Regions from separate parts of the Homo sapiens genome. Here regions 2, 3 and 4 are each linked to region 1. Evidence: fine-mapped expression QTL. A gene starts in region 1. Each other region holds a variant in brackets. All regions are shown on one strand. Distances are between the middles of the regions.

Region 1 (8,105 bases):
AGCAAGGACAATTTGAATTCTTCCTTTCCAATGTGGTTGCCTTTTATTTCTTTCTTTTGCCTAAGTGCTAGGCTAGGACTTCCACTACCGGTACAGAATAGAAGTGATGAATATACTCTGTGCAGGCGTGAGAGTGCTTTTGATTTTTTTAGGAAACATTTGTTAAGTACTTAATGGAAATGGCACATTATTTCTGCAAATTACTCTGAACAGGTTTCATGGAAAGTAATCTGCATATAAATAGAGAGAAGCTGAGTATTACCTGGGACTTGAGTGAAAGATCAAGGGCACAGCAGCCCCAGCTATGTGCGGTTTCACTTTCTGTGGTCCCAGGTGCCTGTGGTCAACTGCAGTCTGAAAATATTAAATAAAAATTTCCTGAAATAAACAGTTCATAAGAGTGAAGTTGTGCCCTGAGAAGCATGGCAAATCCTCACACCGACGCCTTTGTGCCTCTCAGGATGTAAGTTGCCCTCTCAGTTCATAAGAGTGAAGTTGTGCCCTGTTCTGAGAAGCATGGCGAATCCTCACGCCTTCTCTGTCCCATGAATTCACTGTGTGCACCACACATCCTGACACTTAGTAGCTGTCTGGGTTATAAATTGACTGTCCAGGTAGCACAGTGCTTCTGTTCAAGTCTTGCTTAATTTATTCAGTATTGGCCCCAAACACAAGACTAGGGCAAAGAGAAGCCATAAAGTGCTTCCTTAAGTGAAAAAGTGAAAGTACTCACTTTAATAAGGAAAGGAAAAAAATGTATGATGAAATTGCTAAGATTTCCAGTGTGGTAAGAATGAAACTTCTAGGGGCAGAAAAACTAGTTACAGAATGGTAACCAAGTGTGAAACAGGAAGGTAATAGGTCTTCCTTGCAGAAATAAGACTATGCCTGGAGGGGGAATAGGTTCAGTTAGCAAATCAAGCAATATAAAGGATGTTCCCACAAGGCTGTCAGTCCAGAAAGTATTTTAAGTTAATTCGAAAATGAAACCCAGCTGCGCATGGTGGCTCACGCCTGTAATCCCAGCACTTTGGGAGGCTGAGGCAGGCGGATCACCTGAGGTCTGGAATTTGAGACCAGCCTGGCCAACATGATGAAACCCTATCTCTACTAAAAATACAAAAAAATCAGCCTGGCGTGGTAGTGGGCGCCTGTAATCACAGCTAATCAGAAGGCTGAGGCAGGAGAATTGTTTCAACCAGCGAGGTAGAGCTTGCAGTGAGCCGAGATCGCGCCACTGCACTCCAGCCTAGGCGACAAGAGTGAGACTCTATCTCAAAATAAATAAATAAAATAAAAAATAAAAATAAAAATAAAAATAAAAATAAAAAAGAAATCATGCTAGTTTTGCTATCACATTTCAAACTGCAAACGTTACGGCTGCAGTGAGTGATAAGTGCCTATTTAAGACGGAAAAGACGCTGAACTTGTAGGTAGAAGACATGAGCGGAAAGGTGTTCCCACCGAGGGCACGTCAGCGCAGAAAGCACAATCCCATGGGAAGACTTCAGCAGTCAGTCCCCCAAAGTGAGTGACACTGAGCCATTCATGGCAAGTGAGGCATAGCTACACTGATTTAGGAGTGGGCTTGTCACGAAACCAAAAACCAAAAACCAAAAAACTGGAGAGGCTGTGTTTGCCAGTGAAGAAGCTGCTGCCATATTTCCGGCAGAGTTGAAGTTGATTAAAGGGAAAGGATGCCATCCAAAGCAAGTCTTCAATTGCAGTGAGACCAGGCTCCTCTGGAAGAAGATACCCAACAGAACCTACGTTCTTGAAAGGGCAAAGAAGGCCCCAGGGCATAAAACACTGAAGGGCTGATTTACCCTGTGCCGTGTGCAATGCTGTAGGACGTGTGGCCAAGCCAGGTGTGCTGCACACACAGAGGAACACTTATGCTCAAAAAACAAACGTTACCTGCTTGTGTTCAGGCAACATAACCAGAAAGCATGAGTGGTAACCACCATGTTTATGGAAGGGCTCCACCAGTACTTCCTCCCAAAGCCTTGGAAGGGGGAAGGTTGGAATATAAAGTCTCATTAGTAACAGACAATGTACCTGGCCATTCTGAATATGTTGACTATAAAAATGACAAGGCCAAGGTTGTATTATTATTAAGACCGGGTCTCACTCTGTCGCCCAAGCTGGAGCGCAGTGGCATGATCTCGGCTCAATGCAACCTCCGCCTCCAGGGTTCAAGGGATTCTCCAGCCTCAGCATCCCTAGTAGCTGGGACCACAGGTGCATGCCACCATGCCTGGCTAATTTTTGTATTTTTTTGTAGAGACGCGGTTTTACCATGTTGCCCAGGCTGGTCTCAAACACCTGAGCTCAAAGCAATCTACCTGCCTTGGCCTCCCGAATTGCTGGGATTACAGGTGTGAAGCACTGTGCCCGGCCTCAAGGTTGTATTTTTACCTTGAAATACAACCTCATTGCTCCTGCCTTTTGACCAGGGCATCTTCCAGTTTGTCTAGGCCACATACATCAGTTTGGTCAGCAATTGATGCATACATATATATGCATATATATATATATATATATATGCATGCAATTGATACATATATATATGCATGCAATTGATACATATATATACACACATACATAGTTCAGTACTATCCACGGTATCAGGCAGCCACTGGGGGTCTTGGAACATACCCATGAGGATGAGGGGTTACTGGAGTTTTTTGTACTACATTTAGAAAGTTTCTGTAAATTCAGAATTATTTCAAAGTTAAAAGTTAATAAAGAGACACTAACTGCAACTGGTTTTAGACACATCTCAGAATCAAAGCTATACTCATCACAAAAACCAGAAAGTTGAATTTTGGTAACCTCATGGGGGACATTCCCTCGCAGAGTTTCAGGATAGTCAGGGTTTTACTTTTTATTGTTATTGTTATTGCAGTAGAACCCTAGTATTTAAAATAAGCAAAATAACCCTTACGTGCAGTCCTGACACAGATGCATAAAAGCAGATAGGCAGTTAAAACTTGAATTAATTAGCCTTTCAAAAGCAGCCCCAGAGCGCCTACGACGTCCTGGAATCACAAAATTTTATTATAGAAAGGATTCCAGAGATTGTTAGCCAAAACTACATTATTTTACAAATGAATTAACAATTACCTTTGGTCTGAAAAACAAAAATATATGTGTCTATTCATTTAACGATAAAATTTTAACAAAAACTTGTCTCTCAAAGTCAACATTTATGCATGCAACACGCTGTTTTTCCTTCTTCAGGCCCTGGAATAGAATGTCCCTTTGCAAGGTAATGAGACAATATCTTTGTGCTATTTGTAGACATTTAATTTCTCAGAGATTATATGCACGCTCTTTTAAAAATGCAATTTAAAGGCAAACAATAATCTCTTGTACTTTTTCTTATTCTAGGTTTTGCTACAAATAAAAAGTAATACAATATTTTTTACCAATTCACCCAAGAAGCATATTTTGTAACAGCCACTGTGCCACGTATAAAAAGACCTGGTTTTTGCTATTCAAGAGCTTGTCCTCTGGTTAAACTGAGTGCTAAGAAGTGCTGGCAGACTGCCGTGAAGGTGAAACAGGAATACAGAGAATAGAGAAATGGGGAAGGGCGTCTGTGTTCGAAACCCAGGTCTGCTCAGGGGTCAAGCAAGTCGGAGTCAGAAAAAGTAAAGTGTTTAACATCGAGTTTTCAATATTTATTTGTTTACAATGCGTCACATTCTGCTCCTAGATAGGGTTAACCTCTGAAGACCTCAGATTTCGCTGCTTTTCCTTGCCGTGGAGAGGGAATAAAACGGGCATCGTGGCCTCCGCGATGGGCGCTCGTGCCTGGGTCGAAGGACTGGGGGGCGGAGGATTTGGAAAGGGAGAAAAATACGGGCTGGCTTCTTTTTAAAAAATGTGGGTAGCCTTGCCTGCCCCCGCCGCACTGGAATTTATCCTAAACTTACTTTCATTTACATTAAAACAAGACGATTTGAGTCTACCAAACCCAATACTGCATCTGTGAGGCTCCTTTTGGCACAAACCTGAATGAACAGCGGGAAACGCCGTCTCCCCTGGCGTCTGAGATCTGGGGTCCCCTCCCCACCTGGTCTCCTCGCTCCCGCCCCAGCCCCGTGCGCCCCAGGAGGGCACCGCCGAGCGCCGGGTCCCCGCAGGGTTCGGGAGACTCCGCGGACCGGAGGAGGGATAGGACCCCCGAGCTTTGGGGGCGGGAAGGGAGGGTGGAAGGAGGAGGGGAGCGGGGTTGGGGAAAGTTGGAGCTTCGGTATCTTTTCTCCGGGCCAGGCCGTCCTCGGGGCCCTGCGCTGCGTCTCCAAGTGCTGGGAAGACTCCGCGGGGAAAGGTCTGAGGACGCGGCCGGCTGGCACAGGTGTGGCGGCTTCAGAGGGCCGGGGAGAACCCATGGCTTCGAGGCTGTGGACTAGAAATGTCCCTGATTAGAAGCTGAGAACCTTTGGCCAGGGAGGTGGGGCGGCGGGGAGGGGTCGTCAAGCCGGTCCAGAGCGCGCCCACCTGCGCCACAAGGGAGAAGAGGTGCCCCCCGCCCCCCTCCGCCCACCGCCGCCACGATGCGCCGCGGACCTCGGCGACCCAGCCCGGGTAGAAGCGCGCGCTCCCCTCCTCCAGCCTCGTGCGCCGGCCCCTGCCCCGCCAGCCCCGCTATGGTCCCCCATCCACCCCCGCGGGAGCGCCCCTGTCCCCCCATCCTGCACTTCCCCCAGAGTCGCGCGCCAGTTTCCCGCCCCGTGGAAGCGCCCCTCTCCCGACTTCGGCTGATCCCCGCTCGCCGCCCTCCCCGCGGGTGCGCGCCCGGCCCCTCCCTCGCCCGGGGCGGGTCTGCGTGGGCGGTGCTCCGGGTCGGCGGGCGGAGCTCCGGTTCCCCAGCCCTGCGCCCCGGTGGAGCCCGAGCCGGAGCCGGCAGAGGGGCGCGGGCGCGGACGCGGCGCCTGGCGGGGCCCTGGGAGGCTCGGACGGGGTCCTGGCGTTGAGCTCGGCCGGCCCGGAGCGCGGACCCAGCCGCAGGGGCGGCGATGGGCACCGAGGGACCCCCGCCCCCGGCCGCCTCCCGCGGACGCCAGGGCTGCCTGCTGGTACCTGCGCGGGTGAGTGCGGCCCCTCAGCGCCCCTTCACCTCCGGCCCCCCTTCCCTCTCCTTCGCGCCCTTCTCCCCCCGCCCCTCCTCCCTCCACGCCCCCTCGCTCCCCGCGACCCCTTCCCTGTCTCCGGGGACGGCTGGCCGGAGGGTGGGCGCCGGAGCCCCGGGACGCAGTGGGCACCCGCCCCCTGGCCGCTCTGCTCCCTCCAGCCCAGTGTCTTACTGGAAACTTGCAGGCTTTGCTCCTCCAGCGTCTTCCAAGGTTTGGTTTTGAGGCGCCCGGGCTTCCCTTTACTGCGTGGGAAGTAGTGCTTTCCAGAATTTGGGATTTGAGATTGGCCCGGCATTGCTTCCCAGGAGCGGCTCTTTCGGGCCCAGGCGGTGGCTCGGACCGGAGCGTCCCCCCTGCAGCCTTCGGGCGCCCAGGCCAGGTCTGAGTTGGCCAGTTTGAGCCCAGCCAGGTGCATGGCGCGGCCTCGGCAGGTGCTGGGGGCTCTAGGCCATTCGGGGAACCGCTGGGACGCCAACTGGGTAATACGGATTTCTTTTTTGAAGTCTATTCTGGTTCCCACCCTAAATAACTCCCTCTTCACCTTCTTATTTTTAAATAACTAAACTATTGATTGACAGAAAACAGAAATGTTGGCCCAAAGAAAAACGAAAAGTTCTTGGAAACCTTCAAGTTGCCACCCACAGCACAGCCTCGAGTTGTGAAAACAGTTTAAGGGAGCACGTGGCCACCCCAGCCCTAGGAGGCTGCCGAGAAGCGCGGCTGTTAATGAAAATGCATTGACAACCACTCCTTTAGGATTCCTTCCCCAGGAGCTCCCAGTCCCAGGAGCGACCAGGAATACAGTTAGCCCTCCCTTATAGGACAGTGGAGAGACGGTTCAGAAGGCCACGGGTTGAGGGCTGCTACAAATTCCTATCGTCATAATAATGATTCTAAACTAGGACTGTGGTCGTCGCTACTGTGATGTTAAAAAGATTTCTATGTAGAGACAGGTGCATCTTCATTCAAGTAGCACCTTTCTGGGCTTTTACTACAAAATATGAAAATTAAATTTCATGTAAAATGTGGGTGTTCGTTTCTTGAAGTACTTTGTAATATGAATAGCTATCCCACTGTTGCCCATGGTAATCAAACCCGAGAAAATATGCGGGGATTACCTGGAAATAAACCGCAGTAAAAACTGCAGGCGCTGTGGAATCACAGGCTTTCCGTCTGGTCACTGCCTTCAGCTTTATAATGATGCCCTCCCACGGTTAGGGATTGTGCATTTTTCTCCAGACATTCGAGCAAAGCAATTCTTGCTTTTAATCATTGTAATTATAGCGGAAGCGTTGAAGTGGATTCATCATACTTCATGATTGACCCACTTGATGAGTTATTGGCAATAACGTCAACAAATAAAGCAACTGCGCGTATTCTAGTAAATGCTCTCCTTTGCGCTCAGTATTAATTAAGGTGCTAAATTTGATGTTTTCCAGTCAAGAGTGGCCTCTGCTCACCTGTTTGCTACAAGATGTGATTGGCGCTTTCTTTCTAATAAGGACCTTGATTATTTGAAACAGCCTGTCTGAATTGTATTGAAAGAAACTTTTTTTTTAGCGTTGGAGGCCAAGTATTACAATAAGATGGAGCATTTTAAGAGCAAGACTCCTAACTTTGCAGTCATAAGTAATTAGGTATGTGCTAAGCCTACCTTAGACACCAGTGCATGGTCATGTTAGCTCAGATTCTTATGTATTTAAAACGAATCTGTTAAGTATTGGTGTTGGCAGGTTTGTCTTGAAAACATGAATGTTCTTAGTATACAATGTCATCCTTACTTAATGGCAGAATTATTTTCTTACCATAACTGCACAATATTATTCAACTTGTGTAATTATTTAATCATTTCAGTTAAGAGAACTTGGTGCTTTTAACTAGAAAAAGATGAAAGTCTTTTCTAAATCTTATATTTCTAGTTATATTTTTTCTATCTGAAGTCAAAACTATACACATTCTTTATCATGACTGCTTGTTTGAATCATGGAATTTGGCCACGTTTGAAGGTCTCCTGTTCGGTAACAGACCTGTTTTGTTTCCCCTTTCAAGTGCCTGTTCCCGATGTTTTTTTCTAAGTTAAGTGAGTTCATGGAGCTCTGTCTCTGACCATACCTGGATTTGAGGGGTAAAATCCCACTGGCAGACAACCTCAGTACAATGTGCGAAGTGTGTCTTGCTTGTAGCTTCAAAGACTACTATTGGTTGATGTTTACAGCACATTTGCTGCTTTTAAATGACAACACTTCTTCAGTCTGGGGCGCTGGAAGAATTATTGGCATGAGCCGGGAACATGCCCATTTATGTGATGAGCTTGCCCACTGAAGGGGGAAAGCACGTTAGGTCATTTTAAAGGTGCATGTGGGGTAAGGGCACCACCTAATCATCTGTTTACAGATGTGAATTGCTGCATGAGATGAATGAAGCATCTGAGCTCCTAAGAAGGTTCCCCATTCCTTCTATGCTTTGGTTATGTTTCTCATCCTTGCTGACTCATCTTTAATTTCAACTGTAGAATTTCTATTGACGTCTATGACATCATAAGCAAAATCCATGCATTACAAAGCAGGCAGTTACCTGACTTTACCAGGAGACATGGAGACATGTTCCCCAGTAAATATTTGAATGAGGTCCAATTAAGAAAAGTGTGCCTTGTTTTTGTTTTTGTTTTTTTCCAACATGGGATGTTAAAATTGCCTTGTTTTCTGAATGGTGTATGTGGAGCAACAGCTTCTTGTCTCTGGATATCTTTATGGATGATGACTGTAGACAAGGCATTTAAGCTTCAGTTTTAATTTAGATCTGCTTCTCAAGATACCCCATGAGGCTCTGAGTGAGTTGGCAGAGGGGCTGGCATTGCAGTTCTCGGTGACAGAGGGTGTGTTTGCATCGCAGGCCTCCTATTTACTAAATGGGTATATTCAGGATAGACTTACTAAGCAGTGTGATTTTCTGGCTTTCCTG
Region 2 (8,105 bases), 150 kb after region 1:
TTACTTACTTCAGATGGCAAATCCAGGCTCCCTCAGCCTATTTAGGAAATTTTATTTGAGTGAATTACTTTTAAAAAGTGGAGAGAGATTCAATGCCCCATTCTGAAAAATGCCTTATAGAGTGTTTGCTAAAGCAAAGGGAATGTCCAACTCTGTGGAAGAAACAATGCCTCCTGACTCAACAGCCCCCTCACATAGCCCCAGGGCGAAGTCTGTTAGCACATTGTTTTCTGAAATAAAACTCTATGAGTATTTTTGAAAGTATCTTTCATGTGTGGGTGTGAAATAGAATACTTCAGAATTGTTTTTCTATAAATTTCTAATTTTTAAAATTTAACTTTCAAGCCCTTCAATTAGAGAGAGAAAAAAAAACCCTTATTTTCTAGGTCCCTCGCCTTTCCCACATCTCCATTCTCTCCTTACAAGAGTGAGGCCAGGCCTGTGTGAGGAGTAAGACCTCCAGGGAAGGGAGGGGGATCGACGAGGACCTGGGGAGAGAGCAGGGGGATTAACACCCCAGGTCATCCTGTCCTCACCACAAGAAGGGTTTTGGGCTGAACAAACCTGGGGGCAGGGTCCTGGCTGGTGGCCATGGTACAGGCGCAGTGTTTTACCTGTAGAACTGATTGAAATCTTTCTGGAAACTGCAGTATTAAAATCTGAACATGAGTTTGCAGCCATAACAAATTTAAATTTAGTGTTAAGTCCACAGTTTAAATATCTGAAGTAGAATTGTGAGGCCCATTCATACATGTAATTCAGTAATAACTTGAAGAACAATGTTTTAGAAGACCAGAATAAGAAATATGATCTTATATACCCCCAAACCACTTTTTTGTTGATGAGAAATGTATAATTGATAAGTTATCTATGTCATAGAAAATAGCTCGTTCTTAAAATATGTGGTCAGAAGATAATGTGGAGATAGCTATGTTCTATTATTAATATAATGATGCTGCTACCAAGATGTGAACATTAATTAAATGTCATAACATAGTTTGGGATTAAATGATAAAATGCAGAATAATATTTTATGAAAGATTTTATCTGATATGTTTGTGAAAAGAAAAGCAGGATTGACTTTGAAAATAATTTATTGAACAATTACCTTAGATTGCAACCTCCATTCTGTAGAAGTTTTATGATACATTCGATTGTATTCTGAATTTGTTCCTTTGGTGAGTCCCTGGAGCCCCTGAGTATGGTAAGTGAGGAGGCCGTGATTATGGGGGAACGCATGGAATAGGGGAGTCAGGCCATAAATTAGATTCATAATGAGCCTCGGGGCAGCTCACGATCCGCACCTGCTTGTGGGTCCTTGACTTTAAGGGGTATGTACTGGGAGAGCATTGAGGCAGCGGACTGTTTTGGTTGCATTAGAAATGCCTTTTGATGACATTAGTTTGTCTAGATATCAGCTAACAGAGCACTATGGAAATGCTACCCAGAACCTTAAATTAAAGTGATCAGCTGTGGGTTGCCTCTGGGGTCATAAAATAATTAGGATGCAGGAGGCAGGATAACTTCAGCCAGGCTGCTGTGTGAAAAGTTCCAGTTAGAAGCTGCAGAAGTTTTCCTGTTTACTTTTTATCATCCAGTAAGTTTTATAAATCTTGGTTTGAAAAGTAAAGTTCCTAGATATGCTAATGTTAAAATGTTAGAGCCTTCATAATTATATAATGTTCATTTCTAAAAGTGTGAAAACACAAATTGGCTGAGCCTTTTCTCTCAACTTTGACACACTGAAGTCCTGGTGTTTGAATGAGGTGGTTTTAAAATAACGATTTTTCATGGATAAAACTAACCACCTTGGTATTTTTGTTAAACCTGATGGTCTGTAAGGTGCTTTCCACAGTGATCTTCCTTCACTCCTGTTGAGGCAGCTTGGGCTCCACCGTAATAAGGAACCACAGGTGGGCTGGCTTAGGCAGCAGGGACTCCCTTCTCACCGTTCTGGGAGGTGGAAGTCCAACACCAAGGTGCTGTGGGTTTGGTTACTGGCAAGGGCTGCCTTCCTGGCTTGCAGGCGAAGGCCTTATAGGTGTGTCCTCATATGGTAGAGTTACTGGCAAGGGCTGGCTTCCTGGACTGCAGGCGAAGGCCTTATAGGTGTGTCCTCATATGGTAGAGTTACTGGCAAGGGCCAGCTTCCTGGCTTGCAGGCGAAGGCCTTATAGGTGTGTCCTCATATGGTAGAGTTACTGGCAAAGGGCTGCCTTCCTGGCTTGCAGGCGAAGGCCTTATAGGTGTGTCCTCATATGGTAGAGTTACTGGCAAGGGCCAGCTTCCTGGCCTGCAGGCAAAGGCCTTATAGGTGTGTCCTCATATGGTAGAGTTACTGGCAAGGGCCAGCTTCCTGGCCTGCAGGCAAAGGCCTTATAGGTGTGTCCTCATATGGTAGAGTTACTGGCAAGGGCCGGCTTCCTGGACTGCAGGCGAAGGCCTTATAGGTGTGTCCTCATATGGTAGAGTTACTGGCAAGGGCTGGCTTCCTGGACTGCAGGCGAAGGCCTTGTAGGTGTGTCCTCATATGGTAGAGTTACTGGCAAGGGCCAGCTTCCTGGCCTGCAGGCAAAGGCCTTATAGGTGTGTCCTCATATGGTAGAGTTACTGGCAAGGGCTGGCTTCCTGGACTGCAGGCGAAGGCCTTATAGGTGTGTCCTCATATGGTAGAGTTACTGGCAAGGGCCGGCTTCCTGGACTGCAGGCGAAGGCCTTATAGGTGTGTCCTCATATGGTAGAGTTACTGGCAAGGGCTGGCTTCCTGGACTGCAGGCGAAGGCCTTATAGGTGTGTCCTCATATGGTAGAGTTACTGGCAAGGGCTGGCTTCCTGGACTGCAGGCGAAGGCCTTATAGGTGTGTCCTCATATGGTAGAGTTACTGGCAAGGGCCAGCTTACTGGCCTGCAGGCAAAGGCCTTATAGGTGTGTCCTCATGTGGTAGAGTTACTGGCAAGGGCTGGCTTCCTGGGCTGCAGGCGAAGGCCTTATAGGTGTGTCCTCATATGGTAGAGTTACTGGCAAGGGCTGGCTTCCTGGACTGCAGGCGAAGGCCTTATAGGTGTGTCCTCATATGGTAGAGTTACTGGCAAGGGCCAGCTTCCTGGCCTGCAGGCAAAGGCCTTATATGTGTGTCCTCACATGGTAGAGACAGCGAGGTGGGGGTGGGGAGAGAAAGAGCAAGAGAGAAAAAAGAGAAAAAAAAAGAGAGAGAGAGAGCGCTGTATCTGCTGTCTTTTCCTGTTCCAACCCTATCAGATAGGGCCCACCTGAATGACCTCATCTGACCTTAGTTACCTCCTACAGGCCCTACCTCCAATGCAGTCACACTGGAGGTCAGGACTTCAACACGGATTTTAGGGGGACACAGTCCCATTCCCAGCACTTCCTATTAGGGCTCACAGTACAGCTCTCACTTTCCAGATGCAGAAACTTGATTTTAGAGAGATTTAGAGACCTAAATACCTAAATGGCTAGTACAAATGTACACAGAAAGGAACATTTCAAGAGACTGCACAAAGCAGGTATGAAATAAATATTATTCTGGCTTAGCTAAAATCATAGAGAACAAGCCCTTCACATTCCAGTAAACATATATTTATGTTGGTTGTTAATGGTGTAATTTTTTTCTTACCTATCTTGTTAAGAATATTAGTCCAGATTTTACCACAGGTGATCAGTTTCTTGATATTTTCTTTGAAATATCAAGGATATTTTAGGGTATTTCAGGATATCTTCCTGACATGTATAAGTGAGTCAAATGACAGTTTTAAAATGTCATTCTTTGGCAGTCTATCAAGGCAGAAACTAACTTGTTTCTTCTCAAAATGTATTTTCTCTC[G/A]TCTTGTACTTGCTTGCATGAGTTTCAAATACTTACACTAACAGCTACAATTTTAAAATGTTATTGAGCATTTTCAGAAATTCCATACAGAGAGGCCTCCAGTTACTATGACGTAGATAATTCAATTTTCTCATCCTCCATAGCCTTAGAACTCAGAAGCGTAAGGCTGTTTGCTGTGGCACACAGAGGAGCAGCTGGCAGGTGGACGGACGCCTTTCTCCCCACTCCCTCAGTTGGCCATGAACACTACAGAATTTAGCGTCTGCTGAGGGAGGGAATGAACCCCCCCTTGGTTCTGCAGTCCACATTCATTGTGAGATGCATTCTGGCCTGCAAAGTCAACCGTCCATGTGTTGAGGAGGAAAACGGTATGCCTCCCACATGCAGGAGTAACTCCCTCTCCCTCCTCTATAGAGGATATCCTTGGAAACCCTCTGTCCACATAATGGGATTTATTTATTCAGCTTTATTGAGCTACAACTAATAAAAATTGTACATGCTTAAGGTGTACAGGGTATGTTCTCATATGCATATACATTGTGAAATGCACACTACAAACAAGCTAATACATACATCACCTCTTACAGTTACCTTTGTTTTTTGTGGTGAGGACATGTAAGGTTTATTCTCTTAGCAAATTTTAAGGAAATATGGTATTATTAACCATAGTCACCATGCTTTCCATTAGAGCCACAGAACTTGTTTACCTTACAGCTGAAATGTTGCACCCTTTGGCCTGCACCTCCGCCCCCCAACCCTGAACGCCCCTGGTAAACACGGTTCTACCCTCTGCTTCTGCGTTCAACATCCTTAGATTCCACATGCAGGAGACCGTGTGGTATTTGTCTTTCTGCGCCTGGCTTATTCGACTCGGCACAGTGTCCTCCAGGCTCATCCATGTTGCCACAGATGGCAGGATTTCCTTCTTTATGGCTGAAGGATGTTCCATTCGGTGTATCTACTGCATCTTCTTTATTCTCGCATCTACTGGTGGACACTTGGGTTGTATCCATATCTTGGCTGTTGTCAGTAATGCTTTGATGAGCAGGTTTAAGAGCCTGTTACTCTGTCCATTGGTGCAGTGTCACTGGGAAGCATCTGTGGCATTTCAGGTAAATACTGAGAATGTGGATGCAATGAGAGCCCGTGGTATGGATGTCCCAGGAGTGGCTCTGACTTTGCTGTTCACAGTATCTGGAATACAGTCTAACACCAAGAAAAAGCCAAAACGATCACTCTGTAGCAAAGCCCCCGAAATACGGCTCTTTTTCTGTGTATAAAATTATTTTTGTCAGTTAAAAATACTATATGTCCAAAAAGGATCGAAATGGTAAAATTTCCAATTAAAGTATTATTTGCTGTGTCCCCATATACACACTTTAACACAGGTATATTTGCTCTAATTTTTGGTTTCTTTCCTTTGAGTTTATGAAGTATTTCCCCCTAAGAAGGACATTCCTGGGGTATCTCAGGCTGCGGAAGCCCTCACAGCAGCCTCCCTGCATCTGCACCTGCACCGCTGGCCGGGGCGGGAGCTCCCAGGTCCCCCCTTCGGCGTGGGCTCTGCCACCCTTTTACTTCTTTGTCCTTGCTTTGCACAGCAGATTCCTTTCAGAGCCATTCAGCCTGAACATGCTCATGTTTCCTCTTAGAACTCAAAGAATGTCTGTCACTTCTGTTTTTCCTGTAGTGTATTTTTGAGGTAAAAGCACCCTTTGGCCACTGTCCGTCTACCCCAGGCTGCCTCTGTGCGCCCCCTCAGAGCAGCACCAGTCACTCATGTCTACCTGAAGTTGGCAACAGTCGCATTCATCAGATTAGACCACAGCAAAACATAGGTGCATGGCTTAATGCGCAAGAGATTTGGAGATTTTTTACCATTTCACTAGCCAGTTAAAGGCCTATTGTGCTTTTAGCTTTTTATCACAACCTACCCTTAAATATCCCAGACATCTGTGGTCAGAGGACGTGAAAAAATGGATCATTCATGAATTAATATTGGTTGAAGATTGTCCTAAACACGGCTGACTTCAGCAGAGACGTACAGTGAAGCGTGAGCCGGTCCTGGGGTTGGTGGGTAGAGAGCGGTTCTAAAACAGGACTGAGTGCTCCGCCCCACTTCCCTTTCACCACCTGGGAGAAGGTGGACCCCTCGTTTCTTCATGGAGCTCCGTTCCTCACAAGCAGAATGCAGACGGGATGACAGTTCTGTGGGGATTCTTCCTGGATTTCAGACAATGCCTGGAATGGGGCCTATTCTTTATCACTGTCTTCGTTTTCATACGTGCAATACCACGGAGTAAAGATTTGAAATAGTGTCATTACTGTCATATTTAGCCAAAGTTGCTTTGGAAATATAATTTAACACGTATTTGGGTTTAAATGAAGAATTTCTTTTGAATTCACTTTCTGATAGTGCATTTTAACCTAAACTTGGTTTGTTTTCTAAAATGTTTTAAAGCGCAGAACTGTTACACTCCGCAGACAGCCAGTTGGCGGCTTGGGCCTGAGTATAAAGGTATGGAAATGGTTTTCTCTATTCCTGCTTTTTATTTTTGAAGAACTTTCCAGTGTGAATCATGATAACCACGTTTCTTTCTGATGGCTTTGTCTTTCAGGGAGGTTCTGAGCACAACGTCCCTGTCGTCATATCAAAAATATTCGAAGACCAAGCAGGTAAAAACAGCCAAAATGACCTGTGTATGCATCACAGCCATTTGTGAGATAACAAATTACTGAAAATGATAAAAATCAGCAGATATGTGTTTTGCTCGATTACCTAAACTTCCGTTTTATTTTTGTAGCTGTGTCTTGTTTCAAAGGATGCTTCTTATGCCCTGATCTGAGGCTGCCCTTTTTAACCTCTGCTGATCCCTCTGGCCCTTAAGAGAGACACTAATTCTCTGTTTGAGGTATCAGGTTATCCCCCCTCTAAAGATATTGATGATTCAGGGGTTTGAATGCTGATTTTAAGGTATTTTAAAAATCGAGGAGAATTACATATAGATGGAGAAGTCCATGGTGTTCGTTGAAGTATCTGATACACAAGTCTCTGAGCCTAAGAACGTAATGAGCCTGTTGCAGGACTAGCTGACCGCGCTCAGGTGGGGCTGAAACGCCGTCCGTTCTGCACTTGGCAGCTGGTGGTACTGCACTGACTACCACCTCCATCCCTGAAATGAAACACTGGCTATGGGAATAATCACAAGAATAACTGACATTCATAGGGAGAGATTACTCTGTGTAGAATCGAAAAGTGAGGGTGGGATTTCTGGCCACACATTCCACTATCGGGTAGACTGTTTCTCATACAATTCGATTTTGGACATAATGAACCCCCTGCGGTAAACTCCATGCATCTGTCTCCCTATCGGGAGGATTCTGCATCCTTGTGGCTGGCCTCCTCCCACCTGGTCCAGCAGCTCCTGGGTGTGCAGCCTCAGGCCACTCCTCCCCTGCTCTCCAGAGCAAGGGGCACCTGGACATGCGGTCCGTGTCGGGGGGTGGGGCGGTTAGCTTATGTCCTTGAGGCCTGCAGGGGAACAGGAAGCAAGACAGAGTGGGCAAGCGGGTGGCCTTATGACCTCATGTGCCTCACACCGGAAAGCACAGCCACTGCAGGGGACCCCTGGCTGTGTCCCTGGAGGGGACATGCTTCTCTCCACGCTCCACCAGAAATGTGGAGGTTCTGGGTGAAAAGCACAGAATAAGCTCATACTTTTTCTCTAAACATTCTTACTCATTTCACCCAATTTTACCCAAACCATAAGCCCAGTATGCAGGTAGAGTGCCCTGAAGAGGCTGGAGGTCCCAGGCTGGGGAAGCCTTAACCATGAGCCCTCTGAAGGTGGGTGCAGTGAGGGCAGTGATGGTCAGGTCCTCTGAAGGTGGGTGCAGTGAGGGCAGCGATGGTCAGGTCATCTGAAGGTGGGTGTGGTGAGGGCAGTTGTGGTGAGGGCAGTCATGGTCAGGTCAGCCATGTGTGGTGCAGGAGACCATGTTTTGCTGCAGAGATTGCCCCAGTGGGATTTGGATTCCCCACAGCAGCTGTGAACACGTTCTCAGGGAAGAGAGGTTTCCACAGAATGCGTTGCCATGAAATTTGCATCCGGGTAAAGATTCTTTTTCGGCAGAAGGACATTTAAGAGTCAGGTCAGCAACACATTTTTCTCCTTTTTGAGCAAGCTTACAAACCTGCCGTTAAACTTGCAGCAGATGGGATTCCATTTAATCAGGAATTAGGGGCCAGCAAGCCCCGAAACC
Region 3 (8,105 bases), 220 kb after region 1:
GATGAGGAGGAGAGGGAGAAGAAAGGATGTTGAAAATGCTCAGTGGCATTACGGGAGCATTTCTGCAGATGTGTTTCCAGTCTGGAGTTTTTAGTGGGATTTCATGAGGTAAAAGGGATGAGGCTGTCCTATGAGGTCAAGATCTATGTGAAGCACCGACATATTTAAGGTTGTCCACAGGCATGGCCGGGGTGGGGTGGCTCAGAGGGCCAGGAGGGAGCACCAGTGGTGGAGGTGGACCAGCCATGCCAGATAGAAATGTCCTCAGGTGAAATAGGAAGGCATTTATGTTGGATCTCAGGCCATGGGAACTTTCAAACTTTCTAAATCCAGTCTTCAAAACCCATTCAAGCTACATCAGGTGTCTTAGGGAGCTGTGCAGAACTGTAATCCTCCAGGTAGGCAATGACGGGCATGGAAAGTGACTGAAGAAATGAGGAGGAAAGATCAGAGGGAGCGATGAAGTGGGGCAGGAACCTACCCAAACTGTGGGTAGGCTTTATGTAGAGGAGAGAGCAAGGTGGGCTACGCCTGGCCTGGGAGGATGAAGTGAGGTAGGAACCTGCCGAAATTGTGGGCAGTCTCTGTGTAGAGGAGAGTGCGAGGTGGGATATGCCTGGCCTAGGAGGATGAAGTGAGGTAGGAACCTGCCCAAACTGTGGGCAGTCTCTGTGTAGACGAGAGGGCGGGGTGGGATATGCCTGGCCTAGGAGGATGAAGTGAGGTAGGAACCTGCCCAAACTGTGGGCAGTCTCTGTGTAGAGGAGAGGGCGAGGTGGGATATGCCTGGCCTAGGAGTATGAAGTGAGGTAGGAACCTGCCCAAACTGTGGGCAGTCTCTGTGTAGACGAGAGGGCGGGGTGGGATATGCCTGGCCTAGGAGGATGAAGTGAGGTAGGAACCTGCCCAAACTGTGGGCAGTCTCTGTGTAGAGGAGAGGGCGAGGTGGGATATGCCTGGCCTAGGAGGATGAAGTGAGATAGGAACCTGCCCAAACTGTGGGCAGTCTCTGTGTAGAGGAGAGGGCGAGGTGGGATACACCTGCCCTAGGAGGATGAAGTAAGGCAGGAACCTGCTCAAATTTTGGACAGTCTCCATGTAGAGGGGAGGGTGAGATGGGGATATACCTGGCCTAGGAGGATGAAGTGAGGTAGGAACTTGCCCAAACTGTTGGCAGGCTCTGTGTAGAGGAGAGGGCGGGTGGGCTATACCTGGCCTCGGAGGAGGAGGATACAGCAGAGGAGGGTTATGCATTATGGGAAGACACAGATGCAGGTGCAGTGAATTCTGACACACACAGCTTTGCAGCATCTAGACTTTTAGTGTCTCAATCAGATTTAAACAATGGCAAATACATTGTGCACAAAAAGCTGATTTTAGATGCTGTGTTGAAACGTAGGGGATTGTATGTGAGGTGACTGAAACAGTTTGTATAATTTGAAACTCCAGCACAGAGCTAAGTTCCATCCTTTTGAAGTGATAGCCACTAATTTCCTGAGAACTAAAGCATCATTTAAATATTTAAATTAGTATTTGTGGTTTGTTTTGCCACAGTTAATCCATGTTTTGCCAGTGACTGAACACAGGCTGTTTGTAGTAACAAACTGATTTCTCCGAGGGTATTATTTTCTGGTAGATTGCATTCATAGGGATGCAGAGAGCATCCCTGTGATGTGTTGTGGATGATACGGGCAGACCCCTGCTCACTCATGCACTTGTTTACGCAGATAGAGTGTGGGGGGTAGGTGGTCTCGGAGGTGATAACCACTCTTCTTTACTCCAGCTGAAGCCCACAAAGTTTTCCGTGTTTCAGAGGTAACTATGAACTTTGAATTCTTGGGAAACAGGAGAGGTAGAGAGATTTTATTTTTTAATTCTGTGTCTGGTTCTTTTGTGGTGGTAAAAGTAGCTATTTTTGTCATATTGACAGGTGCATCTGCTGAGAAATGCTGGCGATGAAGTTACCATCACCGTTGAGTATCTCAGGGAAGCGCCGGCATTTCTGAAGCTCCCGTTAGGTAAGTGGGAAGAGGAGAAATGCCAGGGTGCTGGAGAAATTCCTTTCTTGCCACATTATTTATCCAAATGCTACCACATGGACTGGGATATTAATCATTTGCTGAGTGTACATTCAGAGAGAAGAAAAGTATAGGCAGGCACCGTGGCATCATGTAGTCCCATGACGTTGTATGTTTTAACACATCCACGGGCTTTTTTGAAGGAAGTGTTATCAGACCGTGCTTCTCGACTGTGCTTCTCGTCACTTAACTACATGCTCGTTCCTTCATGCAAACTCACCATGATTGTATTTATCTATATGTTAACGTAGAAGCAAAGTTTACACGTAAAATACCTATGTTGATCTGAGAAATTTTCAGTGCAAAAAATGAAAATAATGGTACATTTATGCTATGAAGTCCCTGACATATTTTGGCACAAAGCTTGTAATCCTCTATTATACTTGAATTGTGACCCAATATGAAAGTGATGAACCCTAAATCTAGAAAAATGTTTTAGTGAAGATAGTTGTTGTAACTTTTACTAATGTTATTCAGCTGTCATGGCTTTATAAAGGTTGGAGTCACCACCGTTCCTTTGATTTAGCAGAGGGCATCACTGCCCTCTCTTTGTGGGTAATCGGGAAAGGCCTCGAAGGCAAGGCCCAGGCTCCCCTGAAGTCAACATCTGCTGGTGGCTCAAACCCCAGGGCATCCGATGTGGAATGAGGACCTCCCGCTGAGCCGACAGTCGGGTTCCTTCTCATGGGGGCTGGTGGGCTGTCCTTCCTGTCACTCTCTCATGGGAAGGAACAGCTTCCCTCCCTGGGGGTTCATATTGACTGTTTTACTTTCTCTCTCTCTTCCATTGATGTCCCTATTGTCAATGCCTTCCTTCTCTCCTGCCCCGAGTGGCCCGGCTGTAGCTCTCAGGCACATCAGTAGTTGAGTTCTGATCATGCATTGGGTTTTTCACTGATACAGGAGGGGGGCAGGGAAGTGCTGGGAGGAGAAGGGCGGGTCCCTGGCGAGGGCTGCACCCCCAGGCCTGTGCCCATGGACCTAAGTGAGGACAGGCACTCCTGTTCTTGCACCCAAATGTTGCGTTTTCCAGTACCACCCTGGCCTACCACGCCCCCATCCTATGCCTATAACAACCCCAAGACCCTAGTGGGCAGAGACACAAGTGGCCGGATGTGGAGAAGAGCAGAGGAG[C/T]GGAAGAGTATGCTGACAGGCACCAGCAGACACTGGCAGGCTATCGACTGGCAGAATGATGTGGAGTTTGGCTGGGGTGGTTGGACGAGACTCCAGGAGAAAACCACCTTGCCACTCCATGCCCCTTCTGGCTCTCCATCCATCTTCTGAGAGCTACCAACACTCCATAAAACCTTGTGCCAACCCTCCAAGCTCACGTGGGATCTGATTCTTCTGGTATGCTAAGGCAAGAACCCCGGGATACAGAAAGCCTTCTGTCCTTGCGATAAGGCAGAGGGTCTAATTGAGCTGATTAACATAGGCCACCCACAGACAGCAGAACTGAAGCCTACAAGCCACCCACGGATGGCAGAACTGAAACCTACAGGCCGCCCACAGATGGCGGAACTGAAGCCTACAAGCCACCCACAGACGACAGAACTGAAACCAACAAGCCGCCCACAGACGGCAGAACTGAAGCCTAGAAGCCACCCACAGACGGCAGAACTGAAGCCTATAGGCCGCCCACAGACGGCAGAACTGAAGCCTACAGGCCGCCCACGGATGGCAGAACTGAAACCTACAGGCCGCCCACAGACGGCAGAACTGAAGCCTAGAAGCCGCCCACAGACGTCAGAACTGAAGCCTACAAGCCGCCCACAGACGGCAGAACTGAAGCCTAGAAGCCGCCCACAGACGGCAGAACTGAAACCTACAGGCCGCCCACAGACGGCAGAACTGAAACCTACAGGCCGCCCACAGACGGCAGAACTGAAGCCTAGAAGCCGCCCACAGACGGCAGAACTGAAGCCTACAAGCCGCCCACAGACGGCAGAACTGAAGCCTAGAAGCCGCCCACAGACGGCAGAACTGAAGCCTAGAAGCCGCCCACAGACGGCAGAACTGAAGCCTAGAAGCCGCCCACAGACGGCAGAACTGAAGCCTAGAAGCCGCCCACAGACGGCAGAACTGAAGCCTACAGGCCGCCCACAGACGGCAGAACTGAAGCCTACAGGCCGCCCACAGACGACAGAACTGAAGCCTACAGGCCGCCCACAGACGGCAGAACTGAAACCTACAGGCCGCCCACAGACGGCAGAACTGAAGCCTAGAAGCCGCCCACAGACGGCAGAACTGAAGCCTACAAGCCGCCCACAGACGGCAGAACTGAAGCCTACAGGCCGCCCACAGACGGCAGAACTGAAGCCTAGAAGCCGCCCACAGACGGCAGAACTGAAACCTACAGGCCGCCCACAGACGGCAGAACTGAAACCTACAGGCCGCCCACAGACGGCAGTACTGAAGCCTACAGGCCGCCCACAGACGGCAGAACTGAAACCTACAAGCCGCCCACAGATGGCAGAACTGAAGCCTAGAAGCTGCCCACAGACGGCAGAACTGAAGCCTACAGGCCGCCCACAGACGGCAGAACTGAAGCCTACAGGCCGCCCACAGACGGCAGAACTGAAGCCTAGAAGCCGCCCACAGACGGCAGAACTGAAGCCTACAGGCCGCCCACAGACGGCAGAACTAACAGAGCGCCCTGGAACACACTCCCACTAGGGCTTCAGGAGCTGGAAACATCCACCCCTAGATGCTGCCAGGGGTCAGAGCCCCAAAGCCGGCCCATCTCTATGGCACCCCCGCCAGAGGTTTGAGTAGTGGGGCACCGAAGAAGCGAGCCACTCCCCCATCACAAGCCCTGCAAGGGGAACAAGTGAACTTTTCCTGTTTCAGCATTTGATCAAAAGCATCATTAGACTCATAGCATGACTTCTGCTTTCATCTTCCTGAGCAACCAGGAACAAATCCATTTCAGCAACTCCATTTTTCCCATCGATCACAGCAGGATAACTATGCTATTCACAATCTTAGGAAAATCGATCTTCCTGCCATTGTAGCAAACCTGGATCAGTAAGATTCACTGCATGCCTTGCCATCCTCAGAGACCACTCCCTCTGCTAGAAGGAGCCACGGGAGCATGAATGAAGACCTAGAGGGTTCTTGAGGAAAAAGAGTAAGGGGTGCTGAGGGGCTGTGCATGAGAAAGGCGAATATTCCCAGGGCCGTAGAGGCAGAACATGTTAGCAATGGGGCAAAGGTTTAAGGGAGCGAAATGTCACACGCGGCACAGTGGTGCACCCCTGGGGTTTTGAGAAACGTTGCTGTGAGTTGGGAAGGGGGTGGACTTGAGGGCTGCACAGAAGTTCTTGGAGCCAGCAGGGAGACTCAGGTGTCAGACGCACATCAGGAGGCCCAGCAGTGAGCTCGGATGGGGGAGGAGGACTCACTTGTGAGGGGGCAGCGTGAGTGTCTGCAGATTCTGCAGCAGCTGTGACCATACAGGCTCACGAAGGAAGAAACTAAGACTTTTCATAGATTTTTGCCAGAAAGAAAAGAAGAGAAGATAGTGGCTTGGACAGGAGGAGGTGGCATTGATAAAGGAGGAGACAGACAGAAAGCAGGGGGTGCTTTCGGATGTTGCTAAGTGGGGGTGGGAGGCAGAGGACACTCACCCTGGGGCCGTTCCTGACTTCTCTCTCAGGCAAGGTGACTTCACAGGCCGAGTGAGATGGGTGCTGCGTCTAAGCCAGCTTCCCTGGGTGCCTTTGAAGGAGCAGAATTTAAGCAACAGCAGCAGCAACACTGCAACACCAGATGGCAGAGGAAGTGCCCCAGGTGGAGGTTTTCACCGTGAGCCCCTGCCTAGAGCCCCATAGCACTGAGCCTGTGTTTCCCTCTGAGGATGGGCAGCTCTTGCAATTCTAGTGCCTGAGCCTGTGGGGCCGGAGGCTGTCTCTGTTGAGATTCACATCCTGACTTCTGTCCGTGGGCTCCACTAAAACCTGCAGGCTCCGGGGTCCATTGCCAGTCACATAGTGACTTCAATGAGCGTTGCTGCCGGCATCCTGAGCGGGGCTGTGCTGACTCTGATGGCTCTGCCTGGACAGGCCCAGCTACACGGACCACCCCACACGTCCTCGGGCACATGCAGGAAAGGGCAGCCTGGGGTGCAGATCACAGAGGCCAGGGGTGCTGAGTCCCCATTAATTCAATAAGTGTCTATTCTCCTTTTATTTCATTCTTTACAGTGAAAAATGTTAAAATCTTAGTATCCATAACAATTTAAGCAAGACAGCCATAATCTCTCTATAAATTCAGGCGAAACGTCCTCTGCTGAATTCACACCGTGAAGGTAAAATTGCTGTGCCTGAGCAGACTTCACTTTCTGACTGCATGAAGCAGAAATCCACCGAGCAGCTCCAGTGAGTGGGGAAAGAGAGTATCACGGCAGATCTGTGCGGAAAATGTCCAGTTTCCACATTTTAAAACGTTTATCAAAGAGAAAATAAACAACCGTTTGAGACTGAGTCAAAGTAGGGTTTTATTTTTCACAAGTCAGGCTCTTGGTCTTTTTATAAAGATACAATTCATGCAACAGAAAATTCACCGTTTTAAAGTAACACTTCAGCAGTTTTAAATATTTCACTACGTTGTAGAGGCATTGCTACTGTCTAATTCCAAAACATTTCCCTCATCCCAAAAATAAACCCTGTGCCAGTTAGTCAGCCCGGACTCTCCCCACCCCAGCCCTCGGCAGCCGGGAATTTCCTTCCTGTCTCTTTGTGGGTAATCAGGAAGGGCCTTGAAGGCCAGGCCCAGGCTCCCCTGAAGTCAACATCTGCTGGTGGCTCAAACCCCGTGGCATCCGACCTGGAATGAGGATCTCCGTCTGCGCCGGACGTTTTCTGTAATGGAATCCCGCACAAAGATGCCTTTGTGTCTGGCATCTTCCCCCAGTGTAGTTTCAGAGTCCGCCCCCAATGTCGCGGGCATCGGTGCTGCATTCTCTTAGCTGAACAGCATCCGTCCTAGGGAATATATCTGTGTATACGGACCCATGTACATACCCTTTGTATGGGTTTTGTTTATCCATTCATCAGCTGATGGGCATTTGTCTTGCTTCTGTTTGGGGGATATTGTGAATTATACCACCATGAGCATCCGTGAATGCGTTTTTCTTGGGAGATGTTTTCCTTCCCACCGAGTGGATGCCGACTACTGGAATTGCTGGGTCCTCTGGTGACTCTAGGCTCAACTTTTTGAGTGGCTGCCAAATTATTTTCCACAGCAGCCGCACCATTTTACATTCCAACCAGCATTGCCTGAGGGTAATCTAAGCAGTTTTGATAGGTTAGGGTTAATTTTTTTTAAGATTAGGTGTTTTAATAAACATTGATCATATACTACATGTTTTCTAATATGATTGTTTATTTTTGACACCTAATAAAAATAAACTAAGTCTATTTTTCTCATTAAGAATTCTTGATATTGGGTTTTAAAAAATAATGGACTTTTATTTGTGATAGAAGAAAGATATAACTATTCACATTTCTGTTCTGGGATATGGATGACAAGATACCTATTCATCAGAAATAAATTTATAGAAATTTAGAGTGGAAGCGTGACTGTCAAATGTAAATTTATTGACTATTTACCTGTTAGCTCATTCAGTCAATGGTGGCTTGGATCTGCTGCCATTAGTCATGTGTCTCCTTTGTCTATAGCATGAACTTTGGGATTTTGGAAGACTGCAGTCATTAAAAATATTTTGATTTTCCTCTCCAATTACTGATAAGGTGATTACGGGTATAAAATAACAGGCATTGGGAAAGAATTTCAAATAGATAACAGTGAAATGTGCTTCTGAACGCTAAAGGGCAGATTCAGGTGCTGTCTCAACAACCCTGTGAAACGCTCTGGGTGCTGTGTGGAGCAGTGGCTGGTCCACAGCAGAGTCTTCACCAGACAGTAAACAGTGGTCAATGAAAAAGAAAAGTTCTTCATCTAGTAAAATTGACAACTACCCTTTAAAAGTTAAGCAATTCTTATTTCCCCCAGAGTTCTCCAAGT
Region 4 (8,105 bases), 110 kb after region 1:
CCTGCACATGTCTGCTGGGGCACTGCGGACCCGTGTCATTGCCACCCTGATTCAGACGGGCGGACCTGAACCTTTGGTTGTTTCCCGTGGTGCGGCTCGGGGGTGTTCTGCCACCTTGTCAGGTGGTGGAAATTGGCCCTTTCTCCTGCATCCCTAAGCGTCAGACCTCAGCCGTTCCCACCCAAGAGAGGCGGCCCACACCTGGGCTGTGGCTGGAGCATCTTCACGGCACCAGGAGTTCACTCTTCTTCGTGCCAAGGAATTGGTTAATTCTTCTAGGATCTAGCATTTTTAATTATCTAACTCTAATGAGGGGTTTACGTAGAGGGCTTCGGGGATTTTCAGTATGGCTCTCTATTTGACTGAGTTTGAAGGATTCCTGAAAGGAAATCCCAAGCTCCTACTGTGGTTTTGTCACTCTTCCTAGCAGGTTTAGGATGCAGTCCTACATGGCTAGAGATGTTAGAGAAGGTCTCAGTAATATCCCTGTGAACCCCACAGAGCCGCCTTGGTGATTCTGGGACCCCCTGGAGGTGACACATTCCTGAGACACCCCAGGGTACACAGCAATAGCATAATTAAGCCCCATGCTAATGAAGTCTTTTCCCCAGACCTTGGATCAGAATATCACTTGTTAATATTATCTGAAGTTAATGTTGATGTATTTTTGGATTTTCAAAGAGGTACATTTTCAAATGAAAAATCTAAATTGGGAAAATGAAGAAAGTAAAACAGAATAATGTAATTGTAATTAGGGTCTACTATTAAGCATTTGAAATACATGAGATGAAAATTAGCCATTTTAGAAGTTAAAAATATTGCCAGGGTGATGGCTTTTTTTGTTTTGTTTTTGTTTTTGTTTTTTTTTCCCTATTGATTCCTTTGGTCTTTATTTCATTCAGAAAACAATTGCCTCTCACCTCCTCTATCCAGCCTGCGTCAGGTACTGCTGTGTGAGTCTATAAATGCTGTTACCTCCTCTGTGCAGCCCACGTCAGGTACTGCTGTGTGTTGCTATAAATGCTGTTAACTCTGCATTCACATTGTAGACGTGGCCCTGACTGCAGGGAGCCAAGAGAGAAGTGGCTTCATGTCATGGGCAGCGAAACAGGGGCTGTGTGAGAGGAGTGGGAATGTGAGCTTGCCCCGGCCCAGGCCATCTGCCTGACTGTGCAGTTCATGGCTTGGGGCCGCTCTGCTCGGGGCTTCTTTCTGTAAGTTTTTCATTTTGTGTAGGTGACTTTTTCCAGTGCTGTTGCCTAGAGTGGGTACCGTTTTCTGATGAGCCCACACAGAAAGAATGCATTTCCTCTCACTGGAGGCTCACGACCTGCCTTGTGTCTGATGACCCACACAGAAAGAATGCATTTCCACCCACTGTGGAGGCTCACAACCTGCCTTGTGTGGGTCAGGATTTTTCATGGACGTCACTAGATCAGTGTGCTGAATGCCCATCGAGACAAAAATACTAATTTTGAGTCAGTGTGATGCCAGAAATGTTTTTATCAAGTAGCAGGTACAACTATTTATCAGTTTTAATATGAAAATGTTAGTCATTCATAGAGATCAAACCATGTTGCAGAAATTCAGATTTGGAAGAAACCCGGAACAGTAATTGATCTTATCCATTCTCCTAGGGTTATCATGAAGGATTTAACAGTGTGAACATTTCCATTTTCTAAGGTGACCGTGCCTTTATTTTGATGGCTCTGAATTGTATTTTCCATTCAGTTGCAGCACCAGCCCTCCCTTGATGTGCAGAATGAGCAGGTGTCTTTAGGAGTGAGGCTGGGGCACGACTGAATGCAAATTAGCCCTTGCCCAGACAGAAGACAGTCTCATCTCACCAGCGGTATTTCCTGGAGGGTCTGATCTGTCCTGGACATGCGGTGGGTCGCGGGGACTGCAGCTTCATCTCTCAGACGGCTCCTTGTCCCCACTGTTTCAGAGTGGACACAGGGAGAAGGGGTGAGGCAGCTGGGACCCAGGCGGCTCCTCTGGCTCCCATCTTGGTGGGAAGCTGGTCCACACCACCAAGAGCACGGGGAGGACTCCCTGCGGATGGGCTCCAGCTTCATTCTGAAGGAAGGAGTTGAATAAGTTAAGGAAAGTGGATGAGAGGGAGAGTGCATGGGGGAGGGAGGGAGAGGCCGCACTGTGCTGTGGGGAGGGAGGGAGGGAGAGGCCGCGCCGTGCTGTGGGGAGGGAGGGAGGGAGAGGCCGCGCCGTGCTGTGGGGAGGGAGGGAGAGGGCGGCGCCCCGCTGTGGGGAGGGAGGGAGAGGGCGGCGCCCCGCTGTGGGGAGGGAGGGAGGGAGAGCGCAGCGCCACGCTGTGCTGTGGGGAGGGAGGGAGAGCGTCGCGCTGTGCTGTGGGGAGGGAGGGAGGGAGAGCGCAGCGCCACGCTGTGGGGAGGGAGGGAGGGAGAGCACGGCGCCCCGCTGTGGGGAGGGAGGGAGGGAGAGCGCAGCGCCACGCTGTGGGGAGGGAGGGAGGGAGAGCACGGCGCCCCGCTGTGGGGAGGGAGGGAGGGAGAGCGCAGCGCCACGCTGTGGGGAGGGAGGGAGAGCGTCGCGCTGTGCTGTGGGGCGGGAGGGAGAGGGCGGCGCCACGCTGTGGGGAGGGAGGGAGGGAGAGCACGGCGCCCTGCTGTGGGGAGGGAGGGAGGGAGAGCGCAGCGCCACGCTGTGGGGAGGGAGGGAGAGCGTCGCGCTGTGCTGTGGGGCGGGAGGGAGAGGGCGGCGCCACGCTGTGGGGAGGGAGAGAGGGAGAGCACGGCGCCCCGCTGTGCTGTGGGGAGGGAGGGAGAGCGTCGCGCTGTGCTGTGGGGAGGGAGGGAGGGAGAGCGCGGCGCCCCGCTGTGGGGAGGGAGGGAGGGAGAGCGCGGGGCCACCCCGTGGGGAGGGAGGAGAGGGCGGCGCAGCGCTGTGCTGCGGGGAACGATGCATGCCGCTTCCTCCAGGACCTGTGAGTGCAGGGTTGGACGGGGCTTTCTGAGCTTGGGAGCTGGGGCCAGGCCTGTCCTGCAAGCAGCTGGCCTATTTCTGCTAGAAGCTGTGAATTACAACTGTAATGTATTTATTCTAAGGACTAACATGGCACTATTCATAAAAGACTGTGTTAATATTTGCACTGTGCTTTCTGTAATTATACCTCATCAACTTCATTTTTATCTCTATTCTGGCTGTATTTCATATTCCTGATTCTCTTCTGTATGCCTGAAAGGAGAGTTGGTGTATTAGTCAGGGTTCTCCAGAGGGACAGAATTAATAGGATAGACACATGCATGTAAAGGGGAGCATATTAAGTAGTAGTAACTCACACGTTCACAAGTGTGAACATAGTCCGTCTGCAAGCTGAGGAGCAAGGAAGCCAGTTCGAGTCCCAAAGCTGGAGTCCGATGTGCGAGGGCAGGAAGCATCCAGTGCGGGAGAAAGATGCTAAGCCATTCTAGCCTCTTTATGTTTTTCTGTCTACTTTATATTTTGGCTGCACTGGCCCTGATTAGATGGTGCCCACTGAAATTAAGGGTGGGTCTGTTTTTCCCAGTCCACTGACTCAAATGTTAGTCTCCTTTGGCAACACCCTCACAGACACACCCAGGATCAGTACTTTGCATCCTTCAGTCCAATCAAGTTGACACTCACTATTAACCATCACAAGTGGCAAAATATAAATGCCTCTAAATGTGCACAGGATCTTTCTATATTTAAACAATTAGTATAAAGTTGCATTTCAAAAAAATCTTCCAGCTGGACAACATGGTGAGACCCCATCTCTACAAAAGATTTAAAAAAAATTAGGTGGCATGGTGGCGCACACCTGTAGTCCCAGCTACTCAGGAGAATTGTTTAAGCCCCAGGGGT[T/C]GAGGCTGCAGTGAGCTGAGATGGCGCCACTGCACTCCAGCTTGGGTGACAGAGGGAGACACTATCTCAAAAAGACAAAAAATAAAAAGCTTTAAAAAATTATATTTGAATTAATATAAATAACTTATATTTGTATCTGCATTCTTTTCTGCTCTTATCTTCCTTGTTCATCAGTTGTTGCTGACTAAGAGATATGATTGTGTGTCAAAAATTAGTATTTTTCTACCAACACGTAAATTTAGAGTACAGTTTTTTGAAAAAAAAAGATAATGAATGGAGATGTATGTCTTCTCAATGAGGGTAGTGTCTCTGTCTTGTCTCTGACCTTTGTGTCCACAGCATGTGGTAAAAGTACAGGCAGAGTAGGCATTGGATTTTTTTTTAAAAAAGCAAACAACACACCAGTAGTGTTAAATGAATAAAGGACACTGGAAATTATGTGACATTGTTTCTTTGAAATTCTCCCTGTTTTCATCTTACATAATGTTTGTTTTAGTGGGTTTATTGGCAGTATTTTAATTTGCTCTGTATTGGATTATGGACAAATAGATTGCTTTCCATATAATTCCACAATACCTGTTACTGCATAGATGCAAAAATCCTAGTGTCTCCTCAGCTGCTGCTGTCTGCTTTTGTCTGATTAAAGTTTGGTTGAGCAGAAGGTGAACCCTGGTTGCTATTTCCAGTGTCCCCCACATTGGGGACCTGCATGGGAGTAGCATCATCCTTGGCTAGAGGGTGGAGTTTTCATCAGAAGTGACCAGCCTGTCTTTGTAGAGGCTCATGGTTCATCTCAAGCACCATCAAAAACATCTGGTTGTACCTAACTAATGGCACCTGTTTGTGCCACACAAGCCTGTGGCCCCTAATGAAAGTCAGATGAACTGAGCTTCCCTGTGCCAGAGCCCTCCTTGAAGGCTCTCATTGCTGTCACTGGTCCAGTGCCCTCTCTGAGATGGGCTGCTGCACAACTGTCTCCCCAGGAGGGAGAGCAGGATGGCAGCCATGGGACCACCCCTGGGCTCCGTCTTCAAATGTTGCCATTTGTCTTCTAGCTGGGCTCACTTTTGGGCAGCATTTCCTTCCTTGTCCCAGTTGCTGCTTCAGTAGAAAAACAGGAAAGCAAATACATCTTTCACCTTCGTCTTTGAACTGCATTGCCCACTGTCTTGCAGTGCCCTTTGCTTAGCTTTGCCATCTGTGCAGTTTCATTTACGAGACTGAGGAAAGTGTGTTCCTGGCAATGGACTCCTGGCACCTTCTGCCATCTCTTAGAGCTGGAGTGAATATTCTACAAACCTGTTTTTAGATTTGATCTTGAGAAGGAATGTAGGAGTTTCCTGGGAAAGCCAAATATCACAGGTCCTTCTCCTCCTGGACTGAGTTTTCAGCTGCAAAAGGGCAAAAAAAAAAAAATAATAATAATCAGTCAAGATATCTGTGTAAACATTTGGAAGATGATGAAGCTTCTACAATGTGAAGTTTACTAGAAGGATTCCACAGGTTTTATAAATACAAGTGTGTTCTGAGATTCTAATGGAAACTTGGAGTCACAATTGGATTTGAACATTTTTTGGAACTTTAATCTTTTGGATACGTAATTTGTAATCTTTACTATTTCATCTAAATACGTTTTTTTATTTTATAAATTTCTCTTTTGTGGAATTTTGAAGTATAAGGAAAACCTTGACAATGGAAATATAAAACTCCCTCAACCCTCATAACTCAGAGGGCATAACATGAATAATCTTAGACAAAAGTTCTTAAAATTTAATCTTTACTTAGAGACCATTTTAAAAAACAATCTAGAATACATTAAAGCTTAAAGATCCAAAACAAACTGAGACATATCTGAAAAAGTACTGGGAAGGTAGATTTTTCCATTTAATTACTACAACATACCATAAATCTATATAAACTAAGACAGAGTTATATTGGATCAGGGGTACAAAAGTTCAGTAGAATCAAATATAGAGCTCAGAAATAGGAGATATATAAGAAAAGTGGCATGGCAGATCACTGTGGAAATAAAATATTTTATATAAAGAGATGGAAAGAATGGTTAGCCACATGAAGTAGGATTACATTTTATCCCTACCTTACATCATATCAAAAAAATAATACAAACTGGAATGTACTCTTACCTGCAGGCCTTAGTGTAGGAAAGATGTTTAACACCAAGACTAAAAGACTTTAGGGATAAATGAAAGGTTTGATAAATGTAATTACACTAAAATAAAACATTTAAATTAAAGGAAGTAAAAAGTTACAAACTGAAAATTACACAGAGGAAACCAAAGGTTCACTTTCAAGAAATGAAATAACGATACCAGTGTGAACTCAGTTGTTTAATATTGATACCTATCTAATGGATATGTAGGTATTAATACACGTGTGTATGTGTGTACTGTGTGTGTGTTTGGAGAGAGAGAAGTGCATAGATACAGAGATAGAAGTGTCCTACCGTGGAGCACTGAGCAGTCCTGGAACCAAAGACACCCTCTAGCATGAGAACCCCAGCTCCCGGCTTTGGATTCTAAATGCCCTTCTTCTTCACAAAAGGGAACCAGGGCCCCTGAGGACAGTCTGGCTCCAGCATTGTGTTAAGTATAAGGTTCATCTGGAAGAGTGACAGGTGTAAAGGGCAGAAAGGTCAGCCTGAAAGTGTCCCATGGGCCAAGCCTCGAATAATTCAAATATGAACCTAAGAATGATACTAAATTATAACTATTTGAATGAAATAGTGAGTTTATACTGAAATAAGTGAATAAATAAATGGAAAAGAAGAAAAAGCTGTACTTGTAGTTAGATGCCAACTAACAAATTGAAAACAAATGCTGAAGTTATAATAAAAGCTATCAATGGATTTAAAACCAGTGGGTGAAGTCAGACCAGGAGCAGGATATGTTCACAGTCCCAATGGGTCCTCCCCTGAATTATGTATAAATTACAAAGGAAAAAATGGTAACATTAGGGTGGAGAAACTTGCGGGTCCACAACTTAACCAAGTGATCAAAATTAACACCACAAATGAGAAGGACAACAGTGATAGAAATGTAAACTTGTGACCCTCACACAATCACACAAACTTCAGCTGAGGAACATTCCACAAAATAACTGACCCATGTTTCCAAAAAAAAAGAGTCAAGATCAAGAAAGGTAAACAAAGGGTGAAAAGGTAAGAGACATGACAGCATAGAGCCGCGTGATCCTGGGTTGGACGCTGGAGTGGAAAGAATGACAAAAGGTGAACAGGTTAAAGAGATGTGACAGCACAAAGCCGTGTGATCCTGGGTTGGACGCTGGGGTGGAAAGAATGATGATAAACATTTTTAAGGCAATTAACAAAAATGGAATATGTGTATTAGATAATAGAAAGGTATTGTGAGATCATGATCAATGGGGTCACATTTCTGCACAACTTGTGTGCAGAAGTGCTGATTGCCTTTGTTCCAGACAACCTTTTCAAGGATGTTTGTGCAGCAAACAGCTTTCCGAGGTTGAGGAAGTGTTTTGCCTCTGATAAAAGGGCAGGCATGCTTATTGAACGTTGTTAAAGTTTCAAAGTTTCCTACGTTCAGAGTTTCTCTTCTGTAATGCAACCCACCAGGTATACAGCTGTCAATCATCTGGCCCTCTTGGTGCTTCATGGGATAGCAGGCTCAAGAAATCATAAAGGAAATTGTGGGTGCTCTGTGTCCTGCTCGTCTCTGAGTAACGAAGTCCTTTAGTCCTTTGTCTCCAAGCCAGGCATCTCATGTCTTCTGCCAGCATCCATGCGCTGTTGCTGGATAACGTGTTAGCTTGAACTTAGGTAAAATCTTAAAACCCTCACAGTTCTTGTCAGGTGTCAATGATCAGGTTTCTGAACTTCGTCTTTGGAATGGAGCAATATAAAAATATTCCATTATTCTTGGATATTACTTGGTAGTATTTAAGAGCAGAGATAAATAAAACAATTACTAAAGAAAAAATGAATATATACTATAAATCTATAACAAAGAAATATGTATCACAATAAAAATGCAAATTATACATCAGAAAAATGGAATTAGACATAAGAGGCCTTTCACAGAAGTAATATGTTAATAACAAACATGAGTGTAATAGAGGAGAGAAACACAAATGCTACAATGAAGGATTTTCACACCATTTGACTGAAAATAAAAAGCTTAATTAGAGGGAGTGTGCACTCACTGGAATTATATAAGTTGCTGGTAGGAATATAAATGGCTCTACAG

What was found.
Region 2: its variant is fine-mapped to the expression of SNTG2 in esophagus mucosa (GTEx, PIP 0.98).
Region 3: its variant is fine-mapped to the expression of SNTG2 in whole blood (TOPMed, PIP above 0.99).
Region 4: its variant is fine-mapped to the expression of SNTG2 in esophagus muscle (GTEx, PIP 0.99).

The regions. Positions count from the first base shown.
Region 1 is chr2:945,970-954,074 of GRCh38, forward strand. It overlaps SNTG2 (syntrophin gamma 2), which reads left to right and starts at 4,880. Exons shown (of 17, transcript NM_018968.4): 1 at 4,880-5,099. The coding sequence starts at 5,028. It overlaps SNTG2-AS1 (SNTG2 antisense RNA 1), which reads right to left and starts at 5,423. Exons shown (of 3, transcript NR_136151.1): 1 at 5,316-5,423; 2 at 3,942-4,417; 3 at 3,665-3,832. RefSeq lists a silencer at 4,789-4,918.
Region 2 is chr2:1,091,893-1,099,997 of GRCh38, forward strand. It overlaps SNTG2 (syntrophin gamma 2), which reads left to right. Exons shown (of 17, transcript NM_018968.4): 3 at 6,304-6,360; 4 at 6,461-6,518. Among named protein-coding and RNA genes, the nearest start is that of SNTG2-AS1, 140 kb to the left of the region's middle. The variant G/A (reference allele first, on the strand shown) is at 3,843.
Region 3 is chr2:1,163,618-1,171,722 of GRCh38, forward strand. SNTG2 (syntrophin gamma 2) reads left to right here. Exons shown (of 17, transcript NM_018968.4): 7 at 1,931-2,018. Among named protein-coding and RNA genes, the nearest start is that of SNTG2-AS1, 220 kb to the left of the region's middle. The variant C/T (reference allele first, on the strand shown) is at 3,213.
Region 4 is chr2:1,054,095-1,062,199 of GRCh38, forward strand. All of the region lies in intron 1 of SNTG2 (syntrophin gamma 2), which reads left to right. Among named protein-coding and RNA genes, the nearest start is that of SNTG2-AS1, 110 kb to the left of the region's middle. The variant T/C (reference allele first, on the strand shown) is at 3,865.